Linked DNA regions of Homo sapiens. The protein of the gene in region 1 purifies or fractionates together with the protein of each later gene. This does not show direct contact. Each region holds a gene or a part of one and is shown on either strand. Other genes may lie near its edges.

Evidence for each region.
Region 2: the proteins of HNF1A (region 1) and PCBD2 purify together in Homo sapiens (affinity purification with mass spectrometry; 4 studies listed by BioGRID and IntAct, with this or other methods). This does not show direct contact.

Annotation. Positions count from the first base shown.
Region 1 is NC_000012.12:120,972,155-120,982,759, forward strand, and holds the start of HNF1A (hepatocyte nuclear factor 1-alpha), read left to right. Parts: upstream 1-6,388; 5' UTR 6,389-6,614; coding exon 6,615-6,940; intron 6,941-10,605. UniProt on the Homo sapiens protein: Transcriptional activator that regulates the tissue specific expression of multiple genes, especially in pancreatic islet cells and in liver. Binds to the inverted palindrome 5'-GTTAATNATTAAC-3'.
Region 2 is NC_000005.10:134,899,852-134,909,594, reverse strand, and holds the start of PCBD2 (pterin-4-alpha-carbinolamine dehydratase 2), read right to left. Parts: upstream 4,465-9,743; 5' UTR 4,456-4,464; coding exon 4,372-4,455; intron 1-4,371.

The DNA.
Region 1 (10,605 bases):
GTTAGTACATCCATACGAGAAGTTAAGAATGAGTGAAAATAGTTTTTTTTTTTTTAATTTATGTGCATTATTTTTTTCAAGCAGCTACCTTGTTAGGACATACTTAATAGTTATCTTGGCCTACCTACTGCACTTACTAAACAACTGTTCACTTTTTAATTTTTAATTTTCAGATTTTTTTGAGACGGATTGTTACTCTATCGCCCAGGCTGGAGTGCAGTGGCGTGATCTCTGCTCACTGCAACCTCCGCCTCCCGGGTTCAAGCTATTCTCCTGCCTCAGCCTCCTGAGTATCTGGGACTACAGGTGTGCGCCACCACATCCAGCTAATTTTTGTATTTTTAGTAGAGATGGGGTTTTACCATGTTGGCCAGGCTGATCTGGAACTCCTGACCTCAGGTGATCCACCTGCCTCGGTCTCCCAAAGCGCTGGGATTACAGGTATGAGCTACCATGTCCGGCTGTTCCTTTTTTTTTTTTTCTTTTTCTTTTTTTTTTGAGACGGAGTTTCTCTCTGTCACCCAGGCTGGAGTGCAGTGTCATGATCTCAGCTCACTGCAACCTCTGCCTTCTGGGTTCAAGTGATTCTCCTGCCTCAGCCTTCCGACTAGCTGGGATTATAGGTGCCCACTGACAAGCCTGGCTAATTTTTGTATTTTTAGTAGAGACGGGTTTTCACCATGTTGGCCAGGCTGGTCTCGAACTCCTGACCTCAAGTGATCCACCCACTTCGGTCTCCCAAAGTGCTGGGATGACAGGCATGAGCCACTGCGCCCAGCCACTGTTCGCTTTTTTTCTCAGTGGTTCTCTAGTCCATTGCCTTAACCACTCACCATGACTACAGCTCTTATTTGCAGTGACTCTCAAGAATGCAAATGCAAATGCCATTCCTGACCTCGAGTTAATTCAGCTTTGTCCCCTGAGCATGGGGGAAAGGCAGGCTGGGGGCTGGAACTTTCTGCTTGTGTACCTATCTCTTTAGACTCTGGAGGCTCCTCCCCAATCTCTGTCATTCCCTCTCCAACCAAATCCACCTGCCGTCCCAGACTCAAATGCTCAGCCACCTAACTGCCTGAGGACCCAGCAGTTAATGAGTTTACATGCTGGGGGCAGGAGTCAGGGCCAACACTCCTTGGTTCCTCTGGCTCCCTGGAAAGGGAAAGTCACCAAGAGGCAGCTGCAGGCAGCAAAGAGAATAAGCAGGAGAACCTCAAAGCCACAAAGGGACAGCACACAGCATCTTCCCTGTTTAGCCTGGACTTGAGAATGCTGTCCCCAGCAGTAAGCTGCTCAACCTCAAAGCAACTTGCACGGGGGTTTACAAAAAAATGCACTTGGCCGGGCACGGTGGCTCACGCCTATAATCCCAACAGTTTGGGAGGCCGAGGTGGGTGGATCTTTTGAGGCCAGGAGTTTGAGACCAGCCTGGCAAACATGGTGAAACCCTGTCTCTACCAAAAATACAAAAATTAGCCAGGCATGGTGGTGTGTGCCTGTAGTCCCAGCTACTCAGGAGGCTAAGGTAGGAGGATTGCTCGAACCCAGGAGGCAGAGGTTACAGTGAGCTGAGATCGCACCACTGTACTCCAGCCTGGGTGACAAAGTGAGGCTCTGTCTCAAAAATAAAAATAAAACATAAATGCACTGGAGGAAAGAGGGTACCACTCTCCTTAAGGCGGGGGCTGCCAACTTGTCCTGCACAGCCCGTCCGCCTGCCTCAGGTGGACTTAAAGCCCAGCTCTGAGGGACTCTGAGCAGTCATTTAACCTCTCTGAGCCTCTCTTTCCTCCCCTGCAGAAGGGGGATTATAACAGTTCCTAATTCATGAGTTGTTCTTGGAGTGAAATACATTACTGGCCAGGTGAGATGGCTCATGCCTGTAATCCCAACACTTTGGGAGGCTGAGGTGAGAGGATTGCTTGAGCCCAGGAGTTCGAGACCAGCCTGGGCAACAAAGCAAGACCCCCATCTCTAAGAAAAGTAAATAAATAGGCAGGGTGCAGTGGCTCACCCCTGTAATCCCAGCACCTTGGGAGGACGAGGTGGGCAGATGGCTTGGGCTCAGGAGTTTGAGACCAGCCTGGGCAATGTGGCAAACTCTTGTCTCTACTAAAAAATACAAAAATTAGCGAGGCATGGTGGCACACGCTTGTAGTCCCAGCTATTGGAGAGGCTGAGGTGGGAGGATCACGGGAGCCCCAGAAGCATAGGTTGCAGTTTGCCAAGATTGTGCCACTGCACTCCAGCTCGGGCGACAGAAGGAGACCCTGTCTCAAAAAACAAACAAAAAAGATAAATATATAAATGAAGCTGGGCATGATGGTGCGTACCTGTAGTTCCAGCTACTTGGGATGCTGAGGTGGGAGGATTGCTTGAAGCCAGGAGTTCTAGGCTGAAGTGAGCTATGATCATGCCAGCCTGGGTGACAGAGTAAGAATCTGGCTCTTAAAAAAATAAAAAGTAAAATGGAACAGGTGAAGTTATTTTCTTTAATTTTTAAAATAAAAAGTTATTTTTATAAATAAAATTTTAATTTAAACCAAATTATTTTAAACTAAATATAACATTATATTTGTATAATATATAAATAATATTTTAATTAAATCTAATTTAAAATTATTCTAAATGTTAACTTTTTTTTTTTTTTTTTTTTTTTGAGAGGGAGTCTCGCTCTGTCGCCCAGGCTGGAGTACAGTGGCGCGATCTCGGCTCACTGCAAGCTCCGCATCCTGGGTTCACGCCATTCTCCTGCCTCAGCCTCCTAAGTAGCTGGGACTACAGGCGCCCGCCACCACGCCAGGCTAATTTCTTGTATTTTTAGTAGAGACGGGGTTTCACCATGTTAGGCAGGATGGTCTCAATCTCCTGACCTTGTGATCCGCCCACCTCGGCCTCCCAAAGTGCTGAGATTACAGGCGTGAGCCACCGCGCCCGGCCTAAATGTTAACTTTTAAATTGTCTTTTTTTTTTTTTTTTTTTTTTTTGAGACAGTGTCTTGCTGTATCACCCAGGCCAGAGTGCAGTGGCATGATCTTGGTTCACTGCCACCTCCGCCTCCCAGGTTCAAGTGATTTTCCTGCCTCAGCCTCCTGAGGTTAATTTTTGTATTTTTATTACAGATGGGGTTTCACCATATTGGTCAGGGTGGTCTCGAACTCCTGACCTCAGGTGATCTACCCACCTTGGCCTCCCAAAAGTGCTGGGATTACAGGCGTTAGCCACCACGCCCGGCCAAAATTTTCTTAATTTAAAAATTTAACTCAATATATTTTTTAAAAATTATCATTTCAAGAAGTGACATTAGCCATCTTTCAAGTGCTTGGTAGCCACATGTGGCTGGTGGGTGAGGGCAGGGCCTGTTTTTTTTTTTTTTTTTTTTTTTGAGACAGAGTTTTGCTCTTGTTGCCCAAACTGGAGTGCAATGGCGTGATCTCGGCTCACTGCAACCTCCGCCTCCTGGGTTCAAGTGATTCTCCTGTCTCAGCCTCCTGCGTGCATCACCATGCCCAGCTTTTTAAATTTTTAGTAGAAATGGGGTTTCATCATGTTAGCCAGGCTGGTCTCAAATTCCTGACCTCAGGTGATCCACCCACCTCGGCCTCCCAAAGTACTGGGATTACAGGCATGAGCCACTGTGCCTGGCCACAGGGCCTGTATTTAGATGTTTGCTATTTTGTTCAGCACAGATTATTTTACATTAGTTAAAAAATATTTTTTGAGGCCGGGCATGGTGGCTCACACCTGTAATCCCAGCACTTTGTGGGGCTGAGATGGGAGGATCTCTTGAGTCCAGGAGTTTGAGACCAGCCTGGGCAACATGGTGAAACTCCGTCTCTACCAAAAATACAAAAAAAAAAAAAAAAAAAATTAGCTGGGTGCAGTGGTGCACACCTGTAGTCCCAGCTACTCGGGAGGCTGAGGTAGAAGGATGATTTGAGCCCAGGAGGCGGAGGTTGCAGTGAGCCCAGATCATGCCATTGCACTCTAGCTTGGGCAACAGAGCCAAACCCTGTCTCAAAAAATAAAAATAAATAAAAATGAAAAAAAAAATCAGAATTGCACACATGAAATGGGTGAATTGTATGGTAAGTATATCTCAATAAAGCTACAACAATATTTTTATTGATTTACATACCATCAAACTCGCCCTTTTAAAATGTGCAATTCATTGGGTTTTAATAAAGTCACAGAGTTGTCCGATATCACCACAATCAATTGTAGAACATTTTTATCATCCTAAAGAAACCCAGCACCATGGAGTGGCCACTCCCCATTCCCTTCTCCCACCCAGGCCCTGACAACCACAAATCCACTTCCTGTCTCTATGGATTTGCCTGTTCTGGACATTTCAGATAAATGGACTCACACACTATGTAGTCTTTAGTGACCACTTTTTCACTTAGCATCATGTTTTCAAGGCTCATGCATGTTGTGGCATGTACTGGAACTCCATTCCTTTATATGACCAAATAATATACCATTGCATTGGCTGGATGCGGTGGCTCATGCCTGTAATCCCAGCACTTTGGGGGGCCAAGGCGAGGGCATCACCTAAGGTCAGGAGTTCGAGACTAGTCTGGCCAACATGGTAAAACCCCATCTCTACCAAAAATACAAAAATTAGCTGGGCGTGGTGGTACATACCTGTAGTTCCAGATACTCGGGAGGCTCAGGCAGGAGAATTGCTTGAACCCGGGAGGCGGAGGTTGCAGTGAGCCAAGATTGCACCACTGCACTCCAGCCTGGGCAACAGAGCGAGACCCCCATCTCAAAAAAAAAAAAAAAGAAAGAAAAAAATATATATGTCTATACCATTGCATGGTCAAGCCATATTTTGTTTATATATTCATCAGGTGATGAATATTTATGTTTTTTCCACTTTTTGGCTCTTGTGAATAATGCTGCTATGAGCATTCACGCACAAGTTTTTGTATAGACATCTGTTTTTAATTCTTTGGGGTTTTGCATTCATTTTAATTTTAAAAACATATTGCATAAAAATGTTATTTACCTTGATGACTGGGTTTTTTGGCATTCCCTTAAAATTTGCACCTGGGCTGCCAGGCATGGTGGCGCACGCCTGTAATCCTAACACTTTGGGAGGCTGAGGTGGGCGGATGGCTTGAGTCCAGGAGTTTGAGACCAACCTGGGCAGCATGGCAAGACCCTGTCTCCACAAAAAATACACACACAAGGCCGGGCACAGTGGCTCACACCTGTAATCCCAGCACTTTGGGAGGCCGAGGCGGACGAATCACTTGAGGTCAAGAGTTCAAGACCAGCCTGGCCAACATGGTGAAACCCCAACTCAATAAAGAATACAAAAAAATTAGCCGGGTGTAGTGGTATGTGCCTGTAATCCCAGCTACTCCGGAGGCTGAGGCAGGGGAATCGCTTGAACCTGGGAGGCGGAGGTTGCAGTGAGCCAAGATTGCTCCACTGCACTCCAAGCCTGGGTGACAGAGTGAGACTCTGTCTCAAAAACACACACACACACAACCCAAACACACACAACACACACACACAAAATCAGCTGGGTGTCGTGGTGCGTGCCTGTAGTGCCAGCTACTTGGGTACTTGGGTGGCTGAGGCGGGAGGATCACCTGAACCCAGGAAGTCAAGGCTGCAGTAAGCCATGATCGCGCCACAGCACTCCAGCCTGGGTGACAAAGTGAGAACATAGCTCAAAAAATAAAAAAATAAATTTGCACCTGAGGCAAGTGTCACACTCATCCCAACTCAGTCTCACCTTGCATGTTTTCTGCCTTGCTGGCTGTATGACCCTGGACAAGTTACTTAACCGCTCAGAGCCTCGATTTCCTCCTCTATAAAATGGGGATAATCTCTGTAACTGCTCACAGTTGGTAGCAGAATGCAATGAAGTGAATTCGCCCTCACAGAGCCAGCACTGTTCTTGGCACATGGTAATCTTAACATATTTTTTCCTACAGGGAGGCCTGGTGTCAGGCCGGGAGTGGGGTGGAAGGGTCCCAAAATGGATGGAAGGGCCCCAAAATGGCCGTGAGCATCCTCTGCCCTTGAGAAGAGCTAGCCCAGCTGTCTAGAGCTCCCTGCTGCTGCCGCTCTCGTAAGCAGCAAGCATTTTTGGCTCTCCTGTCTCAGCATGATGCCCCTACAAGGTTCTTTCGGGGGTGGGACCCAACGCTGCTCTCCTGATGGCCTCCCTGGCTCCCAGCACCTTCCATCCCAGCTGCTCAGGGCCCCTCACCTGCGCCTCCCCCACCCTCCCCTCTGCCCACTCCCATCGCAGGCCATAGCTCCCTGTCCCTCTCCGCTGCCATGAGGCCTGCACTTTGCAGGGCTGAAGTCCAAAGTTCAGTCCCTTCGCTAAGCACACGGATAAATATGAACCTTGGAGAATTTCCCCAGCTCCAATGTAAACAGAACAGGCAGGGGCCCTGATTCACGGGCCGCTGGGGCCAGGGTTGGGGGTTGGGGGTGCCCACAGGGCTTGGCTAGTGGGGTTTTGGGGGGGCAGTGGGTGCAAGGAGTTTGGTTTGTGTCTGCCGGCCGGCAGGCAAACGCAACCCACGCGGTGGGGGAGGCGGCTAGCGTGGTGGACCCGGGCCGCGTGGCCCTGTGGCAGCCGAGCCATGGTTTCTAAACTGAGCCAGCTGCAGACGGAGCTCCTGGCGGCCCTGCTCGAGTCAGGGCTGAGCAAAGAGGCACTGATCCAGGCACTGGGTGAGCCGGGGCCCTACCTCCTGGCTGGAGAAGGCCCCCTGGACAAGGGGGAGTCCTGCGGCGGCGGTCGAGGGGAGCTGGCTGAGCTGCCCAATGGGCTGGGGGAGACTCGGGGCTCCGAGGACGAGACGGACGACGATGGGGAAGACTTCACGCCACCCATCCTCAAAGAGCTGGAGAACCTCAGCCCTGAGGAGGCGGCCCACCAGAAAGCCGTGGTGGAGACCCTTCTGCAGTAAGGAGCCCTGCCCCGTCCCCGCTCCCAGGAGAGCCTAGAGGGGCCCCCCTCAGCTCCTAACGAGCCCCCCTTCTGAGTTGAGTCCCCATGACCTTCAGCCTTTAGCCTAGTTGCTGGGAAGGGGGACAGGGCCCATGAGAGCCCAGGGGTCCTTGCTTGGAGGTTTGAGCCTCCAGCCCCTGAACTGCTCCTCTGCAGAGTCCCAAATCCCATGAGCCCAGGCCTTTAGCCCAGTCCTTGGGCAAGGGGGACATTTCCCAGGGGGGTCCAAGATGGGAGAAAAAGCAGGTGAGTTCACAACTCAAATGCCTGGAGAACTGGGAGGTGGTGGAAATTTTTAGCCACTCTGATCATTTATACTCTCCAGACCCTAACTCCTGCACTGAGTCCTCAGTGGGTAGGCTCCGGGGCCCAGGAAGCACTGCCAGGGAGGAGGGCCCGAAGCTGGGGTTTGGGGGCTTTCCTGGCCTCCTAGGGACTCATGCGTTTAGCCAGGGAAGCCCAGGTCTTTCTTACCTGAGGCAGACAGAGCCTCGAGGTGGGAGCTGCTCCCCTTTCCTGTATGGCCACAGGCACCCCACCTCACCAGCAGGCGCCATTAGAGGCTGCCCGTTCTACATCCCCATCCGCTGGCGGACTCCCCGTCTCCTGGAGAACTGGGTGGGTCCTGAGCTCGATGCCTCCCCTCTCCTCAGCAGAGCTGACCTAGTTACTAATTACCCATGTGCTTTATTATTTCTCTTTTGTTTTATAAATTTATAAATGGCAAAAGGCTCTGATAAGGTCTGTGATCATTAACTTGTAGGAATGGTGGCCTGGAAAGATCTGGGCCAACCCACCTCCCACCTAGTGGGGGTGGGGGATGGGGGTGTGGGGGAGAAGGAAGGATGGCCTGGGGGCTACAGGGGCCACCCCTCCCCAGCGGCTCCCTGACCTCCACCCTACAGCGCCTGCTTGAGGAGGTTCACTACTTCCTGGGCGCTGTGCTGAGGTTTCACAGGAATAATTTCCCTTCATGGTGAGGAGTCCTGGGCAGAAGCTATTGGTGACTCTGCTTCACAAATGGGGAAACTGGGGCTTAGAGCCGGGAAGGAGCTAGACTAAGTTCACCAAACTGAGGCCCCAAACCTACTCTGTTCGGTGCTCTCAATTGCTATGACCGGGGACCAGAGGCCTGCAGGGGGTGGCCAGGGAGTCAGAGAGAGACCGAGCCCCAAAGATGCTCCAAAGGGGCCCATCTCTTTTCTGTCCAAGGTCCTGATCCCAGCTGGGGTGGGGGAGGGCTGGTGGATTCCTGCTTTCCCAGAGGCCTCAGGGAGCCTCCCGAGGGCCTGGACAGGGGGCAGGGGAGCAGTCAGGGCCCCCTGACTTGGCAGGAAGAGGAGGGCAAAGGACTCCAGAGCTGCAGGGGAGGGGCAAAGAGTCAGGCATCCCAGACCCAGGGCGAAGGCAACCTGACGGGGTGGGGCTGGGCCTGACCTGCCCAGGGCCCCAGATGGGACTGGGGGCTTTGGGGTGAGGGTGGGGGCAGGGGATGCTTTCTTACCTGGCTGAGTGAGCTCTCTCGGTCAGCAGCCCCCTTTGGTGGGATGGTGGGGTTGGGGAGGCTTGATCCACAGCATTTGAAGGGGAAGCAGAGGTCAAAGTGCTTCCTAGGGACCAGCAGAGACCTGGAAGCTGAGGCAGAGAGTGTAGAGAGAGGCCATTGGGGGAGATGGACAGAGAAGCTGGGAGAAGCAGAACGGAGGAGCCAGGGGGGCGGGGGCTCAGACCCAGCTGGGAGAAGGGGCACGGGAGAGAATGAGGCGCCCCAAGCTTGCAAGGAGGCTGGAGTGCTTCCCGCCTGCCCCGATTGGGTTTTCTTTAATGCTAACAGCATGCTATTTACTTTCCATTTAAATTTGAGATGTTGCTATAAATTATCAACCAGCTCCTTGTTCCTGCAGAGTTTATAACTAACTACCTGGGTTACTTATTGTTCAGGTAACAAAAGGGATCGGAAAACGCCCTGAGTGAAAAAAGTGGGGCCTCCAGCGTCAGGGTCAGGAAAGGAGCCAGGGAGAGAGGGGCGGGGGACCCCTATTGAAGGCCTGGGCCATTGGGGAGGTTGAGGCTGGGAAGACGGTACAGAGGCAGAATGTCTAGTAGAAGCTGTTTCCCGGGAGAAGTCAGTGTCTGGGAAGAAGCCGGGGTGGGTCCTGGGTCCCAGGCCTCCCTGGGGTGCCCCATGTTGGTGGCCACAGCAGGAACCTGAGCTCTTTCTTCAGATCTCCCCCTTAGCTCCCTGAGTGACCTTGGGAAAGTCTGTTCCTCTCCTTCTGCCTCAGTTTCCCTCCCTGGCCAAGGAATAAAGTCCAAACTCCCTGCCTTGGTTTCGTTCCCCTCCCTCCACCCCACCAAATTCCTGGATCTCTTCCCAGGTCTTTCTCTTCCTCTCGGCCTTTGCTGCAGTCATTTTGGCTTTGCTGTTCCTCAGTACCCCAAGCCAATTCCCACCCCAGGGCCTTTGCACGTGCTCTTCCTGCTGCTCAGAACCTCTTTCCAGATCTTCCCATGGCCGATTCCTTCTCCTTCAGCTCCCTGATTGCTCCATCCAAAAGGGGGCCCCACCCCCGTCACTCTCTTCCACTACTGTTGTTCACTTTCTCTGGTTCCCTGTCAAGACTTGTGATCATCTGATTTGTTTGTTTTCTATCTCCTGCCATGAAAATAGAAGCTCTTCAAGGACAAGGCCCGTGTTGCCTTATTTACCACTTGTACCCACATCCTGCCCAGTGGCTGATGCACAGCAGGAATGAGTGAGTGACTGGGATTGTCTGAGGCCCTGAAGATATCTGCTGCCCTGTTGGTCAGGGCCCAGCAGCCTGAGACGTGGCCAAGGGAGAAACTGGGACCCAGAGTTCCTTCCTGGGTGTCCTCCCGGGTCCTTTCTGTCCCTGATCAGCTCAAACCCCAGCGTGTTTCTTTTTTGTTGTTGTTGTTGTTATTTTTGAGACGGAGTCTCACTCTGTCGGCCCGGCTGGAGTGCATGGCGCGATCTCGGCTCACTGCAAGCTCTGCCTCCTGGGTTCACGCCATTCTCCTGCCTCAGCCTCCCGAGTAGCTGGGATTACAGGCATGCACCACCACGCCTGGCTGATTTTTTGTATTTTAGTAGAGATGGGGTTTCACTATGTTGGCCAGGCTGGTCTCAAACTCCTGACCTCAGGTGATCCGCCCGCCTCGGCCTCCCAAAGTGCTGGGATTACAGGCACTCAGAGCCACTGCCCTCAGCCTTCAAACCCCAATCTTGAAGTATTCTGATCCTGCCCATCAGGCAGCATCAGGGCACTGAGACTCAGGAAAACAGTAGCCACGGCAGGAGGGGGGGGGGACAGAGGATCTGACGTCCCCAACAAAAGCCAGACTGCCTGCATCCTAATCCTAGCTCTGCCCCTTTCTAGCTTGAGCAGGTGATTTTATACTTCTGAGCCTCAGTTTCGTCTGCAGGGTAGAGATGACAATAGCCCTTGTCCACAGGGTTAAATGGCATGGCACTTGTAGAGTAAACATGTAGTAACTGCAATATACAGCAGTTATTATTAGTGATCCCATTTTACAGATGAGCAAATTAAGGCTGAGAGAGGCAGTGCCTTACCGAACGAAACTCTTCCAAATGACTG
Region 2 (9,743 bases), on another chromosome or scaffold:
TCTCTAATAAGCCAGAGAAGCTGAACTGTGACGTTTGAGGCAGCAGTAAGGGGGCCAGAGGGAACATACCATAGAGACAGCTTATTTTGTACAGAGCCAGCCTTGTTTTGGTCTGTCTTTTGAGAACAAAGGAATGAAAGATGGTTTTAACTATTTGGAATTACCATCTCCTGTCACATCTAATGAAAACCAATCCCCGGATGGGGAAAAACAAATGCACATTTACATAGGATTTTATCTAACTTCTGGGGGTCCACAGATCCTCTGGACTACAGGTAAAAAGCCCTGGCCTCAGTGGGGTGGGTTTATGAAGCCCTCTTCTCAGAGCACCAGTCAGACAAACTCTCTCCATAGTTTGGCCAGAGTACTGCCCAGTCCAAAGCACTTGTGTGCACTGTCTGGCCTGTTTCTACGCATCCTGGGGATGACATTCACAAAGCCAGGTTCTGTTGGTTAACAGGCCCACACTTCCCATGCTATTGGTTTTTTAACTGAAATAACTTTAAACATCAGGGCCAGAGAGAAGATATGGACACTTGACTAGAAGTCAGGAAAGCAGGGTTCTCATTCCAGGCAATACTTCTTGCCTTACCTACTTGCAGAGTTACTGTAGGCTCAGGTGAGAGAGAGGCTGTCACCCAGAAAGATGAACATTAGTGAAGGCTCCTCATCAAAGGGCAACTGTGGGCTAAGCTGCATTCCCTGGATTCTCTGCCATTAAGCTGCAACTCACTCCCACTTCAGAAATCCCAAAATCATTTATCACTAATATTAAGAGAGGAAAAAGATTTTACCTTTAGACAACTTTTTCTATGAAGAAAAAAATACTAATAAATCAGTTTTCTAGTTTTTCTTCTTTGCTAGGTCGGCTATTCTTCCCCACAACTAACAAAAGGAAAGAATGAGAGTACCTTTTTTTTTTTTTTTTTTGAGACCAAGTCTTGCTCTGTCACCCAGGCTGGAGTGCAGTGGTGTGATCTCAGCTCACTGCAACCTCTGCCTCCCAGGTTCAAGCGACTCTTCTGCCTCAGCCTCCTGAGTAGCTGTGATTACAGGTGCATGCCACCACGCCCAGCTAACATTTTGTATTTTTAGTAGAGACAGGGTTTCACATGTTGGCTAGGCTAGTTGCAAACTCCTGACCTCGAGGGATCCGCCCACCTTAGCCTCCCAAAGTGCTGGGATTACAGGCGTGAGCCACTGTGCCCAGCAGAGAATACTTTTTAATTAAACAAAAATATGCAAAAGCTTGTTGTTAAAAACCACTTACTAGATTAGTTGGGCATGGTGGCACACGCCTGTAATCCCAGCCATCCAGCCTGGGCAACAGAGTGAAACTCTGTCTCAAAAAAAAAAAAAAAAACATTTACTAGGGCTGGGCACAGTGGCTCACATCTGTAATCCTGGCACTTTGGGAAGCTGAGGTGGGAGGATCATTTTAGGCCAGGAGTTGAAGACTAGCCTGGGCAACGCAATGAGACCTCGTCTCTACAAAAAAATTTTAAAAAATAGCCGGGTGTGGTGGACCATGTCCATAGTCTCAGCTACTTGGGAGGCTGAGGTGGGAGGATCACTTGAGACCAGATGACTGAGGCTGCAGTGAGCTATGATCACCACTGCATTCCAGCCTGGGCAACAGAGTGAGACCCTGTCTCTTAAAAAAAAAAAAAAAAGTCCGGGCGTGGTGGCTCACACCTGTAATCCCAGCACTTTGGGAGGCCGAGGTGGGTGGATCACGAGGGCAGGAGTTCAAGACCAGCCTGGCCAAGATGGTGAAACCCCATCTCTACTAAAAATACAAAAAATTAGCTGGGCGTGGTGGCAGGCGCCTGTAGTCCCTGCTACTCAGGAGGCTGAGGAAGGAGAATCATTTGAACCCGGATGATAGAGGTTGCAGTGAGCCGAGATCGTGCCACTGCACTCCAGCCTGGGCAACAGAGTGAAACTCCGACTCAATTAAAAAAAAAAAATCAAAAGAGATTCATTCATCAGTTTTCCAGTGACAGTTCTGAAAAACTTACACATACATCTATCATAAGAAATCTAAAATTCTTGGCCAGGCGTGGTGGCTCATGCCTGTAATCCCAGCACTTTGGGAGGCCGAGGCGAGCAGATCACAAGGTCAGGAGTTCGAGGCCAGCCTGGCCAAGATGGTGAAACCCGTCTCTACTAAAAATACAAAAATTAGCCAAGCGTGGTGGCACGCGCCTATAGTCTCAGCTACTCAGGAGGCTGAGGCAGGAGAATCGCTTGAACCCAGGAGGCAAAGTTGCAGTGCGCCAAGACCGCACCACTGCACTCCAGTCTGGGCAACAGAGCGAGACTCCGTCTCAAAAAAAAAGAAAGAATTCTGAAATTCTTATTAAACACTTATTTTGTCAACTCAGAGAATTTTGGAAAAGAAACAGAATTATGTGTGTCCACACTGAGTAGCTGCAAAGAAAACCATTAAACATGCTGCCTGTAATAAGGCAGGAACCTGGAGTCTGTAGAACACACTGAGCTGTTTTCTCTGAGTGCTGGACCATCCACATCCCCGCTAAGATCAGTGGTATGCACTTTATGCCCACAACAGACACCTGCCCAGCAGCAGGGACCACACCCAGGACTGGGAAATGGAGCCACTTCATCTACATAACATCAAAGGCCCCCATGAGGGCACATTCACAGCAGAACCCTTGGTGGTGGGCTTAATTTTTTCAGGGGATGGGGGGTAGGCTAGGATTTGAAGAGAGTAAACTAGATCTAAGGCCTAACTTTGTTACTTTTAGCTGTGGGATACTAAACTCCGCTTTTCTGAATTCCGGGATCCTTCTGTCTGTAGTGGGGATATTATAATATCTACCTGCCAAGATTTTTTGAAAGGCTTAGATTACAGATCTTGAATGTGAGGGTACCTAGCATTGAGCCTGGCATGGGGCAGCGCTCAAATCATGTCTGTTGACTCATTCCTTCCCAGAACACCCTAATCTTACTGGATCACTAGCACCTGGGGCAGAGTACGCCTGAAGACACGCCTAGGTGACAGTAGGCACTCAACTTGTGTTCTCCCCTTCGTGGACAAGAAGCGGCGGAGTGCCTATCTTCCTCCGTCTTCGAGCTATTTTAAATTTCTTCTATTACAGCACTTTGGGAGGCCGAGGAGGGTGGATGACGAGGTCAGGAGATCGAGACCATCCTGGCTAACACGGTGAAACCCCGCCTCTACTAAAAATACAAAAAAATTAGCCGGGCGTGGCGACGGGCGCCTGTTGTCCCAGCTACTCGGGAGGCTGAGGCAGGAAAATGGCGTGAACCCGGGAGGCGGAGCTTGCAATACGCCGAGATCGCGCCACTGCACTCCAGCCTGGGTGACGGCGTGATTCTCCTTCTCAAAAAAAAAAAAAAAAAAAAAAAAAAATTCTTCTATTAAAGAATTTCAGGCCAGGCGCAGTGGCTCGCGCCTGTAATCCCAGCACTTTGGGAGGCCGAGGCAGGTAGATCACCTGAGGTCAGGAGTTCGAGACTAGCCTGGCCAACATGGCGAAAACCCCTCTCTACTAAAAATATAAAAAATTACCTGGGCGAAATGGCACGCGCCTGTAATCGCAGCTACTCGGGAGGGTGAGGCAGGAGAATAGCGTGAACCCAGGAGATGGAGGTTGCAGTGAGCCGAGATCGCGCCACTCCACTCCGGGCTCGGCGATACAGCGAGACTCCGTGTCGAAAAAACAAAACAAAACAAAACATTTCAAACTGAAATGGGCGGTTAAAATGCAACTTAAAATGAGATGGTGAGTTTAACGCACCACTTTTCCACTAGGTGGTGCTGCATGTTAAAACTTTCCCTCCATTTACTCCAAAATATTAATTTCTACAGCAGGAAAACTGACGGCCCCTTGGAAAAGGAAAGAAAAGTCAATATGTCACCAAAAAAGACAATTTATTAATAACTCCTCCAAAACCTCTGTGGGTTCCCCTTGGAGTGAAGCGCGAGCAGGGAGCCGCCATAGGGAGCCAGGCCCGCAGCGCCGTTCGTCCTCAGCACAACGAGCGGCAGCGGGCACCGAATTGTTCTGCAACTACTTTTCACATCTGCCTTTTGTAGTTGCTGAACAAAATTCGTTCCCATTTGTTTCCGGTTGGCAAGTTCGTAGGCTTCGGCGGAAGTGTAAAGTCAAGGGCAAGTGGCGGAGGCTGCGGCCACCCCGGTCTCTGAGCGGCGCACCGGACAGGTGGTCAGTCCCGGGACGCGGTGACCCGACGCCCGAGCTCCAAGGCTCGGCCCACGCCGGGTTCGCCCCAGTCCCGCTGGTCCCTCAGCCGACGCCGCCGGGCCTCGCACCGCCCCCCGACCCCGGACCCCCACCCACGCGGCCGCTGTGCACTCACCATGGCCGCTAGCCCTAGGCTCTGGCCTCGCAGCGCCGCCAACAAGCGCCGCGTCGCCCCGAGCGCCCCGAGCACCGCCGCCATTGGCCGTCTGCCGAGGGCTGCCCCGCGCGCTGCCTGCCGGCCGCCCACAGCCGCCCCCGACCCGACCACGCCCAGCTACCGCCAGCCCTGGTAGTCTCCCTGCGGGGCTGGCCCGGAGCGGGGTCTGTGTGTGGGAAGCGCCCAGCCTTCCCGCGGGCACAGGCGCAGCCCGGACCCCGAACACCCCCAGGAGCTTCAGCGGTCGCCAGCGCCCTTGGCCGCCAGGTGGACTCTGCGCGCCCCACAGCCGTAGGCCCAGCAGGCGCGCGCGGTCCCCGCCCCGTGCGGGCCCGTCGCGTCTGTGCCCGGGACGCAGGTCGCCCGGCGCGCGCTGGCCTTGCCCTCCGGTCCTCGCTGCGCTAGGAGGAACTTCGCCCAGCCTCGGGCGCCGGCCTCCTCCGCTTCGCGGGCGCTAGCACCGAGCTGGGCTCCCCGCTTGGCGGCGCTGCGCGCAGTCCATGCGGGCAGGAGGATGTCGTAGGCCAGGGCGGGGCAGTTGAGCGGCGGGGCTGGGGCAGTGAACCACGGCAGTTCCCATCGGGGGCTCCTAAGTCTTGCAGTAGTGGGTTCGAACGCAGCCTCTGTTCAGTCATCACGCAGCTGCCAAGTTCTTGAGCCAGCTGGCTCGTCTGGGTTTGCCTGGACCAAAAAGTGTGGAAACCCGGCCTGTAATCCCCTCCCAAACGTGTCCGTGCCCTGTTTACCCCCAGGCTCAGCACACAGTAGGAGCTCTGCAGACAGCTGTGAACAGATTTAGGTGAATCTTTTCTTGTATCATTTTTGGGGAGGTATTCTTTCATTCTTTTTTTTTTTTTTTTTTTGACTTTTTTGAGATGTAATTGACATACTATTAAGAATACTCACTTGTATCTTTTTTTTTTTTTTTTTTTTTTGAGACGGAGTCTCGCTCTGTCGCCCAGGCTGGAGTGCAGTGGCGCGATCTCGGCTCACTGCAAGCTCCGCCTCCCGGGTTCACGCCATTCTCCTGCCTTAGTCTCCCGAGTAGCTGGGACTACAGTCACCCGCCACCACGCCCGGCTAATTTTGTTTTTGTATGTTTAGTAGAGACGGGGTTTCACAGTGTTAGCCAGGATGGCCTCAATCTCCTGACCTCGTGATCCGCCCGCCTCGGCCTCCTAAAGTGCTGGGATTACAGGCGTGAGCCACCGCGCCCGGCCTCTTTTTTGTTTGTTTTTAACTGAATAGTTTAAGCAGGCCAGGCATGGTGGCCCGCACCTGTAATCACAGCACTTTGGGAGGACAAGGCAGGAGGATCACTTGAGGCCAGATGTTCGAGATCTGCCTGGGCAACATGGCAAAACCCCATCTCTATTAAAAATACAAAAATTAGCCACGCGTGGTGGCACGTGCTGGTAGTTCCAGCTATCCGTGAGGCTGAGATGGGAGGATGGCTTGAGCCCGGGAGGCTGCAGTGAGCTGAAATCACGCCACTGCATTCCATCGACAGCAAAATACCCTTTCCCTCACCCCCCTCAAAAATAAAAAAAAAAGTTTATGCAAATTAATAAGCAGTTTTGCAGAGGATATGGCAAAATATTTTTTTTAAGAACAAGAGTCCATTTAACTTCAACTTAGCAGTTATTAGCAGTCCATCCATATGGACCTAGAAAAAATAAAGCATTTTGCCTCAAAGTAGCCCAAAATTCACGGGCTTCTGTTCTTCCCATTTGCCCACTTGACAAAATGTAACCATTTCGCCGGGTGCAGCGGCTCATACCTGTAGTCCCAGCACTTTGGGAGGGTGAGGCGGGTGGATCAATTGAGGCCAGGAGTTCGAGACCAGCCTGGCCAAAATGGTGAAACCCCGTCTCTACTAAAAATACAAAAATCAGCTGGGCATGGTGGTGCGTGCCTGTAATCCCAGCTACTGAGGAAACTGAGGCAGGAGAATAGCTTGAACCCGGGAGGCGGAGGGTGCAGTGAGCTGAGATTGCACCACTGCACTCCAGCCTGGCAACAGAGCAAGACTCTGTCAAAAAAAAAAAAGATGTAACCATTTCAAAAGCAAAACTCGGGAGGAATCACACTGGGGGCCCTTATCAAATGTTGCTGGTCCTAAAGAATTAAAAGTTATATTTCCAACATTTACATTGACTGTTTATGATCATGAAAACTACTACTCAGATTCGCTCATTAAAGTAAGAACTAAAAAATGAACCAGTGGATGTGAGTAAACAAGTGAACCTTCATTATTTTCAGTAAATTTAATCATTTTCCTTCCTTAATACCACTGTATGAAACTGGCATCTGGGATATAGTCACTGGCCAGGCAAAGTGGCTCACGCCTGTGATCCCAGCACTTTGGGAGGCTGAGGCGGATAGATCACTTGAGCCCAGAAGTTTGAAACTAGGCTGGGCAACATGGTGAAACCCTGTTGCTACAAAAAAGTACAAAAATTAGTCGCGCATGGTGGCGCATGCCTGTAGTCCCAGCTACTGAGGAAACTGAGGCAGGAGAATCTCTTGAACCTGGGAGGCAGAGGTCAAGATCGGGCCACTGCACTTGCACTCCAGCCTGGGTGACAAGAGTGAAACTCCACCTCAAAAAAATAAAATAAATTTGATCATGCAGATCTAGTCAAAAAAGCAGCGAACGGCAGATGCTAGGGCCCAGGGAAATGATGACATCAGTGGATCACATCACAGGGGCTGTGAATTGTCTGCCCACACATGTAGCTCCCCAATTAATAGGATTTAAGTCCCTTAGCAAAGATTTACTGGCCACATGCTCTGTAGTGGAACCATGCTTAGCTTGGGCTGTTCAGCTGGTCTTTGATCACTTCCTTCCCCTTTTCACTTTCCCTCAACACTACTGGTGTTTTTGTTTTGTTTTTCTGATTTTGGGGGTTTGAGACATGATCTCGCTCTGTCACCCCGGCTGCAGTGCAGTGACACAATCACGACTCACTGAAGCAGTCCTCCCACTACAGCCTCCCAAAGTGCTAGGATTCCAGCCATGAGCCCCCGCACCTGGCAGCACCAGTGTTTTGAGGCTGATCCTCTCTATACTTGAACCTCCTCTCCAGGGAATGGCTCTGCTCCACATTTCCCTCCAGGGGAACCCCATGTAGCTGGGCCATGGTGCAAAGGCAGGGCAGGGTGCCATCCCACATAAAGGTTTTGGAGTAAATTTAAAGCCTGGTTCCAGCCACTGGAAGCTGCATGAAGGAAAGCAAGTTATTGAGAGCCTCAGGTTTTTTCTTTTGCTTTGAGACAGGGTCTCACTCTGATTGCCTAAGCTGGAGCGCAGTGGCATGATTACAGAGCTCACTGCAGCCTCGACCTCCTGGGCTCAGGTGATTCTCCCACCTCAGCACCCCGAGTAGCTGGGACTACCAGGACGCACCACCACACCCAGCTAATTTTTTGTACTTTTAGTAAAGACAGGGTTTCGCCATGTTAACCAGCCTGGTCTCGAACTCCTGAGACTCAAGCAATCCACCTGCCTCAGCTTCCCAAAGTCCTGGGATTACAGGCGTGAGCTACTGCACCAACCTAGTTTATTCTTTAAAAAGGATATTAAACAAAATAGTATATGTAAAGCATCTAAAACAGTACTTGGCACTCACACAGTAATAACTCAATATAAGAGGTGGACTCACTAGAGTTTTCCTTACATTTGTATTTATAAGTACACACATGTGAAGATTCAAATCCCAGCTTCATCAACTTACAATCTGTGTAACCTGGGCAAGTTATCTAACTCTCTATGCCTCAATTTGCTCATGTGTAAAATAGAAATAATGTGCCATTCTGAGATACGGTCCCCTCCTGCCAGTGACCACCCCAAACACAGCTGTTGGAAACATGACACATAAAAGTTGTAAACTCCCATTCATTGTAACACTCTAAGAAGGAGACTCATCTGAGGTTTTATTTCTATAGAATTTAGGGTGCCTTGTGAAATAAACATTCAACTACTCTAAAACCCTGGAAACAATTAGTATAAAAGTAATTTATGATGAGGTAATTAGCTGTCATATCTGAATTTAAGGAATCTTTTAGAAACAGCTTTTCAAAAAGTTTGTTTAGGCCAGGCGCAGTGGCTCACACCTGTAATCCCAACACTTTGGGAGGCTGAGGCGGGTGGATCACCTGAAGTCAGCAGTTTGAGACCAGCCTGGCCAACATGGCAAAACCCCATCTCTACTAAAAATAGAAAAATTAGCTGGGTGTGATGGCACAGGCCCATAGTCCCAGCTACTCAGGAGGCTGAGGCTGGAGAATCGCTTGAACCCGGGAAGCAGAGGTTGCAGTGAGCCAAGATTGCACCATTGCACTCCAGCCTAGGTGACAGAGTGAGACTTTGTCTAAAAAAAAAAAAAAAGTTTGTTTAAATTACATGTTGTCTCTTTACTAAACATGTGTCTTGAACTAGACTAGAATCAACTTGTGGGCAAGAACAGTGTTTTACACTTCAATACTTCTTTTTGTTTGTTTTTGAGATGGAGTTTCGCTCTGGTTGCACAGGCTGGAGTGCAGTGGCATGATCTCAGCTCACTGCAACCTCTGCCTCCCGGGTTCAAGTGATTCTCATGCCTCAGCTTTCCCAAGTAGCTGGGATTACAGGTGCCCGCCACCACGCCCAGCTAATTTTTTGTATTTTTAGTAGAGAGAGGGTTTCACCAAGTTGGCCAGGCTGGTCTCAAAAGTCCTAACCTCAAGTGATCCTCCCGCCTTGGCCTCCCAAAGTGCTGGGATTACAGGCATGAGCCACTGCGCCCAGCCTGCTGGGAACATTTTAAGGTTCAATTAATGCATGCTGCTTAGGTAACTATGATTAAAATGTATACGTTAGCATAGAACTGATAATAATTGAGCTTTAGTTACAGCATTTCCTTTCTCCTAACATCTCCCTTACCCAGAAACAACTTAAAACACTTCAAATTTTTTGAGTTAGAGATCACAAACATCAAGGTATTTGACTCTTATTTTCCATCACTTGCTACTTGAGGGGGTCACACTAACCAATTCTGGTTACATACTTTCCTGCTATGGACTCTAGAAGAAAAACTGCAAAGAAACAGAAAACTAACCTTCTTAAACATATATAAGGAATCAAGGGTTTCCTTAAACTATTACCTGAGAGTCCTATTTTTGCCTTCTGTATAGTAAGCATGTCATTCTACTCACTATTCTGCCGGAATACATCTTCACATTTCAAACTGGATTACTTTCCAAATACTGGATTACGTTCATGCAGTAAAAACAAGAATAGTGCATCTATTGAATATTTTTGCATTTGCTTATTGCAATACTAGTTAAAA